Regions from separate parts of the Homo sapiens genome. Here region 1 is linked to region 2. The links come from fine-mapping of genetic effects on gene expression. Tissue or cell type: cerebellum. Region 2 holds a variant in brackets; the other region holds the start of a gene. All regions are shown on one strand. Distances are from middle to middle.

Region 1 (8,101 bases), 970 kb before region 2:
TTGGCTCCCTGGCAGCAAATGAAGGTATGTCAGGAACACCCCTCTCCTGGCAACTAGCCACCTCCCGGGTGTCCCCTCGCAGATCCTCTGAGTGTTGAGCTCCGGGTCTGTTATGGCCATTGCTCTGCACAGCCAGCTCTGGGATCCCCTGAATATTGAGCTCCGGGTCTGTTACGGCTATTTCTCTGCGCAGCGAGCTCTGAGAGCATGAGTACTGCTCAGCGTCGGGGATGGAGACGCCACCCAGGGGCTGCCATGCTGCAAACTCATCTTGAAGGCAGAGCTAAAGTCACGTGTATGGGGCCATCTGCAGCCCAGCACACAGAAGCAATCCTGTGGGGAACCAGGCCCAAAGCCACTCTCATGCCGGTACCATGGGGGACGGGTCACCACCATCTCACCTCCCCCAAGCACATGGGCAACACACAGCCATGGTGTGGCCACGCAGAGCACATGCTGCGCAGGCCCACGTGAAGAAATGCCACACGTGTGCACTGCGGGCGGGCACAGGCCCACGTGAAGAAATGCCACATGTGTGCACTGCGGGTGGGCGCAGGCCCACGTGAAGAAATGCCACACGTGTGCGCTGCGGGCGGGCGCAGGCCCACGTGAAGAAATGCCACACGTGTGCGCTGCGGGCGGGCGCAGGCCCACGTGAAGAAATGCCACACGTGTGCGCTGCGGGCGGGCGCAGGCCCACGTGAAGAAATGCCACACGTGTGCGCTGTGGGCGGGCGCAGGCCCACGTGAAGAAATGCCACACGTGTGTGCTGCGGGCAGGTGCCGTTCTAGGGGCTTGTCCAGGCCCGCTGACCCCTCCGGCTCACTGGAGATGACCAGGCAGGGCTGCCCTCCCCTAAGAGACATGCCTGCCCCCGTACCGGGGCTGTTTGCAGGGGTGCTGGGAGGTCCTGATGTCAGCCCCACCCCAGAGGTGTCCCAGGGGACAGGAGTACTGCTGTGCTCGCCCGGCACCCCCGGCCTCCTCCTGACCGTGGGCTCCTTCCCTCCTCTGGGATTGACCAGGCTGTGTCTGGAGTGGACTGCAGCTCCCTGGCCTGTGGTCACCCAGAGCCAAGCTCTGCACAGGAACCTCCAGAACCGGCCTGAGCTTCACAGCTGCGTCTGCCCGCTGGCCATGTCTCACGTCCTGAGGACGTTTCACAGGAGGGCCGCCCTTCTGCTGCCCGCAAGACATACAGGTGCAGAGCTGGGGACATGGCGTCGGGACGTGGCGCGGGGCGGCTGGCTGGGTTAAACCAGAGATCAGATGGCAAATGGGAGGGCATTTTCTAGTAACCAGACATCTCTGAAAGTGCTGGTTAAGGGCTTTCGTGCTTTAGATAAAATTACGTTAACTGCACGCTCTCAGTTATGAGGAATTTCGTGGACTGTTACATATTTTAAGGCTGTCCGTGGGCGCTGCCGAGAAACAGGAAGTGGCCTCAGTGACCCCTGCGCCCGGCCGCGCGGCTTGTTCGTACTTGGTTGCCGTGACAACCAGACTTCCTAGCCCCAGGTGTCCCTGTGGCTCAGCTCTGTGCAGGTGTCACCAGCTCTTGGGAAACAAATCCGCAGTAATGACCTTAGCTATCTTTATTGGTTTTGGATAAATACGAAAATGCTTCCCGTCCACGGAAATTAGACTTCGCGGCAAAGAGTGTTTAGGATTAATGTGTTCCAAGTATTTCACCTAAGTCAGGCTGGTGGGCACCACACCTGACCATTTCTTTGTCTTTTGTGTCCCGGGCATGAAAAATGGCTGAAGTGTGCCGAGCCTCCAAGGGACTCATGAGACCCCAGAAAAGTGCTGGCCATCGTGGGCTGCGGGGACGTTGTGCCCACGGAGCTGTCCTGGGTCACGGGGTGTGCCTCAAGGGCCCCGGCCCTTCAGGCCTTGAGGCACTCAAAGGCAGCCTGCGTGGCTGAGAAGCACATTTTAAATCACATTTAACTTTGGTTCACTTGGATGTGAATTTAAGTGACCACGCGGGGCCGACGTCCCGGGGCGCACCCCGACTCTCACGCGGGGCCGGCATCCCGGGGCGCACCCCGACTCTCACGTGGGGCCAGTGCCCTGGGGTGCACCCTGACTCTCAGCCAGTCCTGGGGTGGGCGCCTGCTCAGAGACACCTGTGGGATGTGGGTCTCACTCCCGAGTAGCGGTGGGACGAGCTCTCGGCACCTGCTCCTCCCACGGGGCCTCCTGGGCTGGAGCCCGCACAGCACAGTAGCATCCACATCCCTGCTGTGACACCTGTGTGGGCAGTCGGCATGTCGGCGTGGACTCCCAGGCTGCAGAATCAGGTGTTCCCCTCACCACACAGTCTCGGGGGACAGTCTGTTTTCACTCGCGGCTTTTCCAGACCCTCCCCTGACACTCGGCAGTCGGCGTTTCCAGGTGTGCTCAGTGTGGCCAACAGGCACGATCCACCCCACGTGGAGGGTGGTGTGTCCAGGGGCTATGTGAGCTCACACACTCACAGGGAAGGAACGTGGGGGTTGGCACACCTGAGAAGTGGGCGGGAATCACCCCACATGCCCGCGGCAGGGGGCAGGGCAGCCCTGTGGCCTCTGCTTCATCTCTGTCAGGACCTATGGTGGACACACACAGCTCCTGCCCCACCTTCATCACTGCTGAGCCCCCCTGGGAAAGCTCATATCTCCAGCGCTCGCGTGAGGACAGCAGTGCCGGCAGCACCAGGGCACAGGCCCCACAGACAAGGGGCCCGGAGGCCGCTGGGGGCATTCCACCCACAGACCCGCTCTGGACAGTGTGCGCCCTCAGAGGCAGGGAGGGCGTCTGGACCGCAGTCTCATGTGGGTCACTCTTGGGGGCCTCGGGCAGCAGCAACTGAAGGAGGCAGTGATGACCTCAGGCCCACGTCCTGGAGGTCTTGGGGAGAAAGACAGGAAGTGTTTTCCTAGAAACACTGGTGTGCAGAGAGGACTGGGTTTCAGCTACATCATGTGGCAGGGCCGCCCTGGGAGGAGCCTCACGGAGACCCACAGACAGAACGTGGGGGTGAGGGTGAAGCAGCCAGCATCCACAATGGGCTCCCCACCCCACAGCTCCGCCCCGGGACCCCCTTCCTCCGAGGCAGTCAGGCTCCTGCCCCCGGCACCATCCTTCCGGCCTCGGTCAAGACTGCCCGGACACCACCTCCAGGGCCTTGCTGGACAGGACATCCACACTGGCCCCAGCCTGTCGGCCCCCAGCACAACATCTGCACCGGCCCTGGCCCGTCGGCTTAGCCCCCAACACGACATCCACAATGGCCCCAGCCTGTCGGCTCCCAACAGGACATCCACACCAGCCCTGGCCCGTCAGCTGGGCCCCCAACAAGACATTCACACTGGCCCTAGTCCGTCGTCCCCCAACATGACATCCACACTGGCCCTGGCCCGTTGGCTCGGCCCCCGACACGACATCCACACCGGCCCCAGCCCGTCAGCCCCCACAGCACGCACTGCATGTCCACATTCCCCTCTCTACACACCACACCCCAAGCGCTGGCTCCACACGGACGCAGGAAAGCATCAGGACCGGAAAGCACAGGAAAACGTGCTTGCCAGGCAGGCGGGCTGGAGAGCTGAGCAGAGACACAGAGCCTCGGAGGAAGGCCAGGCCCACTCCAGAGCAAGAACTAAAATCTCCAGAGCACAAATGCCCCTGGCTGAGCTCAGCAGCAGAGTGAAGAACGAAAGAAAAGGCAGTGAACACGAAGACATAGCAGCCACAGTGACTCATTCTAGAGATGAGAGGCTTTTAGAAAACACCACACAGAAGCACAGGGCCCAGGAGCTCGTGGAAGGCAGGGAGAGGCCTGATGTCCATGTCCGTGGAGCCACAGGAGAGGAGAAAGAACATGGGGCAACCCCCCCAAATATTGGCAAAAATTATCCAAATTTGGTAAAAAGTAGGCATATCATAGTCAAGAAACTGGCAACGGAAGATAAAATCCCCAAAGCCATCAGAGAAACATAACACGTTACACTGGAACGTCAGGAATGATAGTCGACTTCCCGTCCAAAACGAGGGACAGATGGAGAGAGGGAGCCAGGCGCGGATCCTTCCCCAGGGGCCCCTGCATGCCCAGAGCAAGCATCTGCAGGCATCTCCAGCAGCAAAGGACACCGCTGTTCTCCCCGGGGAGCTTCAGTGTCATCAGAGCCTGAAGGAGGAAGCAACTCGGCACCACGTGGCCCAGAGCAGGCTCGTGAGCTGGCCTCGGTCAGCAGGTCGCCTGGGTCTCTGTCTCAGTGCTCAGCAGGGCGAGGACAGGACAGAACGGGCCCCATCACAGACTGCGCTTAGAAGGAACTCAGTAAAACAAAGACCATTTTCTTCTGGAGGCAACTCAAGGAGGTAAGACTGTGAGTCAAGCGCCTTGGAGGATAAGAAGTCCAGGTAAGTAGAAGGCAGGAGGAAGCTTCCCTAATATCACCTGCAAATCTGCTTCCACTGGGGCATTCTGTTCCCCTTTTCAGACAGCGCAGAGCCCTCCTGCGGTGAACAGTCGCCATAGCCCTTCTTGAGGGGCTGCTGGGTCCAAGACCTCCTGGGTGGGCACACGGACCTGCGCTCCCTGCAGAGACGTGGACAAGGCAGGCCCTGTGGAAAGTTCACCCGCCAGCCAGGCACCGGCACAAAGCCAAACCCCCCGGCGGAGTGTGTGGGGGCAGGGACAAAACGCTCCACGCGTTCTCACAGGGACTCGCCCTTAGAACAAGACAGCTGTATCTCTGTACAAATGCGGGCGGTGACGAGTGGGGATGACGGGACTTTCTGGGGTGACGGCCACTCCCTATACCTTGATGGGGCTCGTGCAAGTTCTTTATGGAGGGAAAGACGCAGTGTGCGGTGAGTTCCAGCTAATGATGTGGGAAGCATTGACACCAGCCCCACCCTGATGTGCGCTGAAGCACCGACGCAGGGACGGGGGACACGGGCGAGGAGACCCACTACGTAACAACGCAGCAAACCCCGTGAACAGAACCTACGGCATCCAGGCGGTCCCCGTGCGGGTTTTACTATACAATTCTTAGGAGAAAAACAAAGGTTAAAAGGTTTGAAATGTAAAAAAGATTGACTACATAGAAAATTTAAAAACAAAACATAAGTAAGAGAATCTACAGAAATAGGCTTAGCCGCTGAGAGGTGTTAGCAAGGTCTGGGCGGAACATTAAAAATCCTGTGAGTGGGCCTGGAAACCAGCGTTCCCCCACAGCTGAGGAGTAAGGGGAGAGAAGCAGCTGTTTATCCCAGATGAGGTCCAGAGAGACGCATTCCAAGCAGCCAACACGGGACAGAGGCGATGAGGGAGGGCGGCCTGGACAGAAAACTTCCAGGCAGATCGGGGCACCCTGTCTCGCAGGCCCAGCCATGCTCCTTGGCAGCAACCACCCAGGGGCTTTCTCACAGGCAGACCAGGGCAGCCTCTGGTCCCTGCACAATCTCGCCTCCGATGCAAGGTGGGAGAAGGCAGCCACCTCCCGAGGGGGGCCACAGAGGGGGTTCTGATCCAGCTGTGAGCTCTCACCCCCAGCCCACAGCGACTGGTAGCCAGGTAGGCAGAATGGCAGGCAGAGCGGCCACTGGGGAACTGATCCAGCAGGACCTGAAGCAGGGAGACAGCACACGGGCGTCCACCTAACGTGGCCAGCCCTTGTGTGGACAAACAGCTGAGAAAAGGCATTACTAACATGGACGTGAAGAAAGTCGCCTCGGTTTTTGGGTGTGATGTGGTGTTGGTGTCGTGTTGTTGCGAAGGCCCTGTCTGAAAGTCGCCTCGGTTTTCTGGTGTGATGTGGTGTTGGTGCGTGTTGTTGCGAAGGCCCTGTGTGAAAGTCGCCTGGGTTTTCGGGTGTGATGTGGTATTGGTGTCGTGTTGTTGCGAAGGCCCTGTGTGAAAGTCGCCTGGGTTTTCGGGTGTGATGTGGTGTTGGCGTCGTGTTGTTGCGAAGGCCCTGTGTGAAAGTCGCCTGGGTTTTCGGGTGTGATGTGGTGTTGGCGTCGTGTTGTTGCGAAGGCCCTGTGTGAAAGTCGCCTCGGTTTTCGGGTGTGATGTGGTGTTGGTGTCGTGTTGTTGCGAAGGCCCTGTGTGAAAGTCGCCGGGGTTTTCGGGTGTGATGTGGTGTTGGTGTCGTGTTGTTGCGAAGGCCCTGTGTGAAGGTCGCCTGGGTTTTCGGGTGTGATGTGGTGTTGGTGTCGTGTTGTTGCGAAGGCCCTGTGTGAAGGTCGCCTGGGTTTTCGGGTGTGATGTGGTGTTGGTGTCGTGTTGTTGCGAAGGCCCTGTGTGAAAGTCGCCTGGGTTTTCGGGTGTGATGTGGTGTTGGCGTCGTGTTGTTGCAAAGGCCTGTCTTCAGGTGTACGAGGAGGCATTTCCAAATGCAGGAATGTGATGCCTGGGATCTGCGTCATGGCAAAACAGCAGGGGCAAGGAGTGTGGGGCGGATGTGGCAGCTGCTAACACTGGCACGGTGCACTGTGGCCTACGAGGGTCCCCAGCTGTCCACAGTTCATTCCTCCCCATTGCGTGGCTTCCTGAACAGCCATGTATTTCCTAACTCTGCCGGCTGAGGGGCTGAGAAGCTGCAGCACCCCAGTAGTAACGGGCACCCCAGCACCCACGTCTTGGTCTCTAAACACCTTCCCCACTAAAGCATCAGGCTTCTCAGGGAAGCCAATAGTCCCGGCTACTCAGGAGGCTGAGGTGGCAGCACAGCTTGAGCCCAGTAGGTTGAGACTAGCCTGAGCAACAGAGCAAGATCCCAGCTCTAAAAAAGAGAAATCCTCCCTAAGAGCACTGCTTTAGAAGGACGTGGAGGAGGGGCTGTGGACTCTGAGCCTTACCCTCAATACAATGAGGTCACCTGCTCCTGGGAACCATCTTAGGATCCCTGGAATGGGCAGAGGGACAAACTCATCAGTGGCCCCCAATCTGGCAGAGTTAACCTGCCCCACAATCTCCAAATCCAGAGGCCTACAAAGCATCTGCTCCAAGCAGTAACAATGAGGTCCTGAGCGGAAATCTTCACAAAGTGGAGAGAAAAAACTGATGGATTGTCCAATGTGTTTGATTCTGTAAAAACAACAGTATTGGAAAGGGTTGACCAGTTGTGCTGGTAAAGTTGGAACAAATGAGTGAGATATGATCAGAGATGAAAAACGAAGCCAATCAAAATAGAAAAGGCAACTATGAACTCCAGGAAAAATGAAGAGTTATTAGAAAAAAAGTTACTATAGTTCACTATTTGGCTCAGCAGTCACAATATTTACAGAGTCAAAATAATGTAAAGACAATCAAACTAATAAAAATTATACTTGTGACACAGCTATACTGATGATGATGAGAAGAACATTAGGGTGTGTGAGGGCAATCCCTGTCGTTCATAAGAGGACATGTATACACAGTGTCTAACCGTGGTATGCGAAGAATAACCCATATAAACCTATCAGTCAGAAAGACAGACAAATACCAGAGTTAAGTGCAGGAAGTGATAAAAGGGTTGTCTGGAGAACAGCATGTGGCTGAGAAGTGGTACGGCAAGGGCTTCTGTTTTTATTATAAGTCGTGTAATACAATTTGACTATTCATGCACATGCCCATTTTTTTTTAATAATTAAAAGAACAATCTTCAGGCCACACTGGCCACAGTGTAATAAAATCAAAGTTGAGAAACAAAAGGCCACCTGTAAAACCCTGAGCATGTGGCATTTTCGAAGCATTTCTCCAGGCTGTCCTTGGTCTAGAGGCATTAGCGCTGAAGGTTATAAAACCACACCATCGGCCACTGTCAGGGGCAGCCGGGGGTCTCAGATGACAGGGTAGGGCAGGGACATACCCAGAAGTGGGTAGCCGCCCTCCAGTTGGCTTTCATTAGCAGAGAAGAAGAGACAGAAAATAGCTGAACCAACTCCAGGCACTGGAAATGATAAACCACTTTCTCCCAGAAAAAGCAAGCAACTACAAGAGGCAAAAACGAATGAGCTAGAGTATATTTTAAAATTCTGATAGATAAAACCAGCTCTTTGAAAAGACCCATAAAGGGGATGATCTATGGCGGTTTAGGCAAGGGAGAGTGAGGAAAAGGAGGA
Region 2 (8,101 bases):
GAGTTCAAGACCAGCCTGATCAACATGACAAAACCCTATCTCTATAAAAATACAAAAAAATAGCCAGGCGTGGTGGTGGGTGCCTGTAATCCCAGCTGCTTGGGAGGCTGAGGCGGGAGAATCGCTTGAACCTGGGATGCAGTGGTTGTAGTGAGCCAAGATCTCGCCACTGCACTCCAGCCTGGGTGACAGAGTAAGACTCTGTCTCAAAAAAAAAAAAATTTAACTGGGAGCCCTACATTTTATCCGACAACCTGGGCTCAGGACCTCCCCCAGCAAGGCCTGGGACGCCCTGCCTCTGTGACTTCCTCACCAAAGCTCAGCAAGCCCAGCATTCTGGATTTCTTCCAGTGCTGGCAACAATTCAAGTTCTTTCCCGGCCCGGGGCCTTTGGGCAGCATGTTCTGTATTGCTGGAACCCTCTTCACATGCCTGGCTGCTTCTCACTCACAAGGTTTCAGCTTAAATGTCTCCTCCTTAGAACGCCCTTTCCTGAGCCAGCTGTGGTGGCGCCCTGTAGTTCCAGCTACTTGGGAGGCTGAGGCGGGAAGATTGCTTGAGCATAGGAGTTCCAGGCTGCAGTGACCCATGATTGCATCACTACACTCCAGCCTGAGTGATAGAGCGAGACCCTGTCTCTAAAAATAAAAAATAATAATTAATTAACTAAAAATTAAAAAGGGCCGGGCAAGGTGGCTCACGCCTATAATCCTAGCACTTTGGAAGGCCGAGGTGGGGGAGAACACTTAAGCCCAGGAGTTTGAGACCAACCTAGGCAACATAGCGAGACCCCATCTCTACAAAATAAGATGTGAAGTTTTCATTTAACATCATCAGTGGATCTTTGGAAACTGACTTTAAGCAAAACAAAGTAAAACAGGTCTTCAGATTAGGTTGTTTGTTGTTTCATTATAATGTTAACAAGGAAAAAAAATAGTTTTTGTTACATGTCGTTTTCCTTAAAGTTGCAGTTTCCAAAAGCCTATAGTGAGGACTGGCTGTAATTAGTGAAGAAGAGGACGTGCTGGATTCGAGCGGGCTCTGCCGCCAACGGCTGATGCTTTAGAAGAAGGACGTGCGAGGTCCAGCGTGGTGGCTCACGCCTGTAATCCCAGCACTTTGGGAGGCTGAGGTGGGTGGATCACCTGAGGTCGGGAGTTCGAGACCAGCCTGACCAACATGGTGAAACCCCGTCTCTACTAAAAATACCAAAATTAACCAGGTGTGGTGGCGCGTGCCTGTAATCCCAGCTACTCAGGAGGCTAAGGCAGAAAATCGCTTGAACCTGGGAGGCGGAGGTTGCAGTAAGCTGAGATTGCACCATTGCACTCCAGCCTGGGTGACAGAGCAAGACTCCATCTCAAAAACAAACAAAAAAATTAAGTTATGTCGAATTATATTTTCCTAGGCATCCAGAACCTTCCAACATGAATTCATGGTAAAGGAAACACCTAAATATTGTTTCTGGCAATCTCCTGTTTTGTAAAGTCTGTGTTAAACTTTTATTCCCCGACTAGCATTGGAATCACTGTAGAACACATAGATTTGGCGTGAGATGGCTTCATTGTGAACGAGTTCCCGTTTATTGTGTCAAAGTCAAGCCATTGAGCAGCCAGGTACGGATGGGCCAACTGCCGAGCCACGGTGGAGAAGGTGGAGAAGAGCGATGGAGTTCTCAGCGAAATCAGAGCTGCCTCGGTGGGTTTCGAATCAGAAATTCCTAAGGGTAACCCTACAGTGAGTGCATAAAGCCACTCAGTGTAATCAGTAGCGTACGACGTCTGTACAATTTGCATAAGATGCACAAGTTGCAATTTGGTTTCAGACTTTTTGTTTCTTTCTTTTTTTTTTTTTTTTTTTTTGAGTCAGGGTCTGGCTCTGTTGCCCAGGCTGGAGTGCACTGGTGTGATCTCGGCTCACTGCAACCTCTGCCTCCTGGGCTCAAGCCATCCTCCCATCTCAGCCTCTCAAGTAGCGGGGACTACAGGCACACACCACCACACCTGGCTAATTTTTGTATTTTTTGCAAAGAAAGGATTTTGCCATGTTGCCCAGGTTGGTCTTGAACCATTGAGCTCAAGCTATCCTCCGGCCTCAACCTCCCAAAGTGCTGGGATTACAGGCATGAGCCACCACGCCCAGCCTGGTTTCAGACTTTTATAAATAACGTGTGTATTATTTCCTCTAAATAGCTTGATTGTTTTTCTTTCCTTTTTTTTTTTTTTTTTTGAGACGGAGTCTCACTTTGTCACCCAGGCTGGAGTGCAGTGGCGCGATCTTGGCTCACTGCAGCCTCAACCCCACAAGCTCAAGCAATCCTCCTGCCTCAGCCACCTGAGTAGCTGAGACTACAGGCATGCGCCATCACACCCGGCTAAGTTTTATATTTTTAGTAGAGACAGGGGCTTCACTATGTTGGCCAGGCTGGTCTCGATCTCCTCACCTCAAGTGATCCACCCACCTCGGCCTCCGAAAGTGCTGGGATTACAGGTGTGAGCCACTGCACACAGCCCTAAATTGGGTTTTTTGTTACAGGTGGATGGAGCTGAATTCCTGAGGAAAAGCTCAACTCAGTTATGGACGGATCTTGTTCCTCCCTATCAGGGGATCCCCAAGGAGAACGCTTGGCGTGTCCTCCTTTGGTCCAGCCTGGGTTGCAGCTTCGATGCTCCCTCTGTGCAGGGGGGAAGGTACCTGCAGATTGCCCATCTGTACCCCAGGATTTAGGGGACACCTGATGAGGTATTTGTGTTTAATCATCATCTTGATGCGGACGCTTTTAGGAACAAGGACTGAGACTGGGAGGGATTATAAATAAACACTCAAATGACAGGAAATCTTCAGCTGTCTTCCACCATCACTCTTCTAAAACATTAGTGCTTCATCTCGATAACGAAACAATGTCAGTGCATCCTGAGAGCATGTGGCTCACGTCTGCATTCGAGGCTGTGCACATTTAACCAGGCTGTTTTGAATATTAGACTCTTTTATCAGATCTTCCGACCATCCGCTTTCTGCTGCTCACAGACCTTAGGTTTCAGAGAAAAGGCTCCTGGATTTCAACGCAATCCATTATCTTCTGTGGACACATGAGGCAAGCAACCTATGGGAGACTTTTTTCTCTTTTTTCTTTTTTCTTTGCCTTAAAAAAAATCTTTTGTTGGAGCTTGCTTCACTAGTAGGAAAGCTGACACCTGTGTAGACAGGTTGTCTGCACCCACTCACAAATTCATTCATGCGTCATGTGCTTTTTGGAGCCGGCATTGCCCTCATCTTTGAGGAGCTCACAATTGGAAGGGAGGGGAGTATCCACACGGTGGAGGTCCCCAGTGGCTTAGTTACATTTGGTTGGGGGTTAGGAAGTAGAGCAAACACAGGGCTTGGCTTAGCACTGCTCCCAAGTTGCTGACATTTATTTTTACTAATCGTCCCTTAAAAAAAGAATCAGGAGGCTGGGTGCAGTGGCTCATGCCTGTAATCCCAGCACTTTGGGAGGCTGAGGCGGGCAGATCACCTGAGGTCAGGAGTTCAAGACTAGCCTGGCCAACATGGTGAAACCCCGTCTCTACTAAAATATAAAATTAGCCAGGCGTGGTGGTGCACACCTGTAATCCCAGTTACTCAAGAGGCTGAGGCAGGAGAATCGCTTGAACCCAGGAGGCAGAGATTGCAGTGAGCCAAGATCACGCCATTGCACTCAAGCCTAGGCAACAGAGCAAGACTCGGTCTAAAAAATAAAAAAATAAGAATTACACTGGGTATGGTGGCTCACACCTATAATCCCAGCACCTTGGGAAGCCAAGACAAGAGGATCACTTGAGCCCAGGAGTTTGAGACCAACCTGGGCAACATAGCAAGCCCTCATCTCTTAAAAAAAGTTAAACTTTAGCCAGGCATGGTGGTGCACACTTGTAGTCCCAGCTACTTGGGAGGGTGAAGTGAGAGAATCGTTTGAGCCCATGATTTCGAATTCCACATGATCAATTGCAAACTGACTTTTTTTTTTTTTTTTAGATGGAGTCTCACTCTGTCTCCCAGGCTGGAGTGCAGTGGCGCGATCTCAGCTCAATGCAACTTCCGCCTTCTGGGATCAAGCGATTCTCCTGCCTCAGCCTCACCAGTAGCTAGGATTACAGGCACCCGCTACCACAGCCGGCTAATTTTTGTATTTTTAGTACAGATGGGGTTTCACCATATTGACCAGGCTGGTCTCGAATTCCTGACCTTGTGATCCGCCTCCCTCGGCTTCCCAAAGGGCTGGGATTACAGGCGTGAGCCACTGCGCCCGGCCACTGATTTGTTGTTGATGTTGTTGTTGTTATCAGTGTTTTCTTTTTTTTCATTATTATTATTATTTATTTTATTTTATTTTATCATGCTTTAAGTTTTAGGGTACTGTACTGATTTTATACCCAACTCATTCCAGGATTCTTGCAACACACTATGCTGATGTACAAAGATGAATAAGACATGGTCTCGGCCGGGCACGGTGGCTCACGCCTGTCATCCCAGCACTTTGGGAGGCTGAGATGGGCAGATCAGGAGGTCAGGAGATCGAGACCATCCTGGCTAACACGGTGCAA[C/A]CCCGTCTCTATTAAAAATACAAAAAATTAGCCAGATGTGGTGGCACATGCCTGTAGTCCCAGCTACTCGGGAGGCTGAGGCAGGAGAATCACTTGAACCCAGGAGGCAGAGGTTGCAGTGAGCCGAGATTGTGCCACTGCACTCCAGTCTGGGCGACAGAGCGAGACTCCATCTCAAAAAAAAAAAAAAAAAAGACATGGTCTTACTGATCAGAGGGTAAAGCAGGGAAAATTTGGGTTGCCCCATCATCGAGCATCAAGTAGCATTCCTGGGACTTGTATGCAAAGACGAGAAAGCCTGGGAGATGTGATGTGCAGATACAGTATGGGCTGTGCTGGCTTGTGGAAAAAGACAGAATAGCTGGGTGCAGTGGCTCACATCTGTAATCCCAGCACTTTGGGAGGCCGAGGTGGGCAGATCACCTGAGGCCAGGAGTTTGAGACCAGCCTGGCCAACATGGCAAAACCCCATCTCTACTAAAAATACAAAAATTAGCCTGCGTGGTGACGAGTGCCTGTAATCCCAGCTATTCGGGAGGCTGAGGCAGGAGAATCAATTGAACCCGGGAGGTGGAGGTTGCAGTGAGCCAAGATCGTGCCACTGCACCCCAGCCTGGGCAACAGAGCGAGACTCTGTCTCAAAAAAAGAAAATGAAAAAGACATGCTTAAATTTTAGCTTCCATTTCTCATCTTCTAAAGCCATGCTTCTCAAACATGAGTGAGCAGACCCAGGAATCTTGTTAAAATGCGGATTCCGATTCAAGGGGCCTGGGAGGAGCCTGAGGTCCTGCCTTTCAAACCAGCTCCCAGATGGGGCTGATGCTGACACCAGTAAACTCCCTTTGCACACAAGCCTGTTTAGGCTGGGTCTTCTCCAATTTGCACACACAGTATCCCAGCTATGACATTCAGAAACATCAAGCTTGTTCTTTCCTGCCCCTTGATGCTGCTTTTTGTTCTGTGTCTTCTCTTGAGCCCCTTGGTGGTGCTTTTTGTTCTGTGCCTTCTCTTAAGCCCTGCCCTCTGCTTGGAATGCTCTCTGCCACCTCTTCACTCCTCCTCCAGGAAACCTTCCTTGACTGCCTGCTCTCTGCCCTGCGAGGACTCTCGGGAGCAGACTTTGAGGAGCAGGCTCCAGGGCAGAGGTTCTTGGCCTTGGCTACAAATTAGAATCACCTGGGAGCTTTAAACCACCCACTGTCACACCCCAGACCAATAGAACCAGAATTTCTAGGAGTGGGACCCAGCACCGGTGTGAGAAGTAGGTCACAGGTGTCTCTCATGCACAACATTTACAAAGTATCGACGGCATCTGATGTCTCCAAACCAGTTGGTAAAATTCACTGTAGCAGTTCATCACAGTCAGGTGCCGCGGCTCATGCCTATAATCCCAGCACTTTGGGAGGCTGAGGCAGGTGGATCACTTGGAGCCCAGGAGTTCAAGACCAGCCTGGGCAACATGGTGAGACTCCCATCTCTACAAAAAACACAGAAATTAGCCAGGCGTGGTGGTGCACGCCTATTGTCCCAGCTACTCAGGAAGCTGAGGTGGGAGAATTGCTTGAGCTTGGGAGGTGGAGGCTGCAATGAGCCGAGACTGCACCACTGCACTCCAGACTGGGTGACAGAGCAAGACCCTGTCTCAGAAAATAAAATAAAATTTAATTTTTTTAAAAAAAGGCCAAGTGTGGTGGCTTACACCTGTAATTCCAGCACTTTGGGAGGCTAAGGCAGGCAGATCACTTGAGGTCAGGAGTTTGAGACCAGCCTGGCCAACATGGCAAAACTCTGTCTCTACCAAAAATATAAAAAATTAGGCAGGCGGCTGGGCGTGGTGGCTTATGCCTGTAGTCCCAGCACTTTGGGAGGCCAAGGCAGGCGGATCAGGAGGTCAGGAAATCGAGACCATCCTGTCTAATATGGTGAAACCCCATCTCTACTAAAAATACAAACCATTAGCCAGGTGTGGTGGCTCGTGCCTGTAGTCCCAGTTACACGGGAGGCTGAGGCAGGAGAATCGCTCGAACCCGGGAGGTGGAGGTTGCAGTGAGTCGAGATCATGCCACTGCACTCAAGCTTGGGTGACAGGCAAGACTCCGTCTCAAAAAAAAAAAAAAAGGCCCCAAGGCCCTCATCTGCCCCTTCTGCCATGCGAGGACAGTGAAAAGATGGCCATCGAGGAGGGGGCCCTCACCAGACACGGACCTGCCTGTCCTGGAGTGTGGGTGTCTGGCCTCCAGAGCGTGAGAAAGGCATTTCTGTTGCTTACATACCCCTCAGTTGATCTTGAAACAAGGAATTGTTTAAGGAAGGAATTAGGGCTGGGCACAGTGGGTCACACCTGTAATCCCAGCACTTTGGGAAGCCGGGGTGGGAGGATCACTTAAGCTCAGGGTTTCAAGGCCAGCCTGGGCAACGTAGGGAGACCTCACCTCTACAAAAAATTTAAAAATTAACTGGGTGCAATGGTGCATGCTGTGATCCCAGCTACATGGGAGGCAGAGGCAGGAGGATTGTTTGATCCCAGGAGGTGGTGGCTGCAGTGAGCTGTGTTTGCTCCACTGCACTCCAGCCTGGGCAACAGAGAAAGAGCCAGTCTTTTTTTTTTTGAGACGGAGTCTCACTCCGTCACCCAGGCTGGAGTGCAGTGGCACAATCTTGGCTCACTGCAAACTCCGCCTCCCAGGTTCAAGCCATTCTCCTGCCTCAGCCTCCTGAGTAGCTGGGACTACAGGCACCCCCCACCACGCCCAGCTAATTGTTTTTGGATTTTTGGTAGAGACAGGGTTTTACTGTGTTAGCCAGGATGGTCTCGATCTCCTGACCTCGTGGTCCGCCTGCCTCGGCCTCCCAAAGCGCTGGGATTACAGGCGTGAGCCACTGTGCCCAGCCAGAAAGAGCCAATCTTAAAAAAAAAAAAAAAAAAGTAATTTCCTATCTTTATAAAGGCCATAAAGGTAGGCCTTTATCAGTAGGAAGGAGGCAGAAGAGCCAAGGTCCAAGGGGAGCTGAAGACAGAAGTGCCCCTTTACTCTGATGGTCCTGAAATTAGCCCAGGAGCTCTGGCCAGCAACATGCTTTGGTTCAGGTGCAGACGACTGGGCCCAGCCTGGCGAAAGGGAACTCCCAATGCAGTGAGTAGACTCTGGTGGTGGCCTGCTACCACAGTGGCCTAGCTGGGTTCTAGGCCTGCTCTACCGTGAGCCTCTCCAGTCCACGGAAGGGAGGGGCACAGCTCTCCCTCCACACCCGTCCCAGGAACATCAACTCATTCCATCAACTAATTCGAAAAATGTTCTGGACAATCCGCAGTGGCTCACACCTGTAAGCCCAGCACTTTGGGAGGCTGAGGTGGGTGGCTCACCTGAGGTCAAGAGTTCGAGACCAGCCTGGCCAACATGGTGAAACCCCATCTCTACTAAAAATACAAAAATTAGCTGGGTGTGGTGGTGGCATCTATGATCCCAGCTACTCAGGAGGCTGAGGCAGGAGAATCGCTTGAACCCAGGAGGTGGAG

Evidence for each region. PIP is the estimated chance that this variant, and not a neighbour inherited with it, causes the effect.
Region 1: it holds the start of LMF1-AS1, and the variant in region 2 is fine-mapped to the expression of LMF1-AS1 in cerebellum (GTEx, PIP above 0.99).

What each region holds. Positions count from the first base shown.
Region 1 is chr16:916,799-924,899 of GRCh38, forward strand. It overlaps LMF1-AS1 (LMF1 antisense RNA 1), which reads left to right and starts at 4,235. Exons shown (of 2, transcript NR_110946.1): 1 at 4,235-4,369. The region is part of intron 3 of LMF1 (lipase maturation factor 1); the gene reads right to left. RefSeq lists an enhancer at 1-174.
Region 2 is chr16:1,887,598-1,895,698 of GRCh38, forward strand. LINC02124 (long intergenic non-protein coding RNA 2124) reads left to right here and starts at 1,517. Exons shown (of 2, transcript NR_146568.1): 1 at 1,517-1,698; 2 at 2,536-2,837. The variant C/A (reference allele first, on the strand shown) is at 4,584.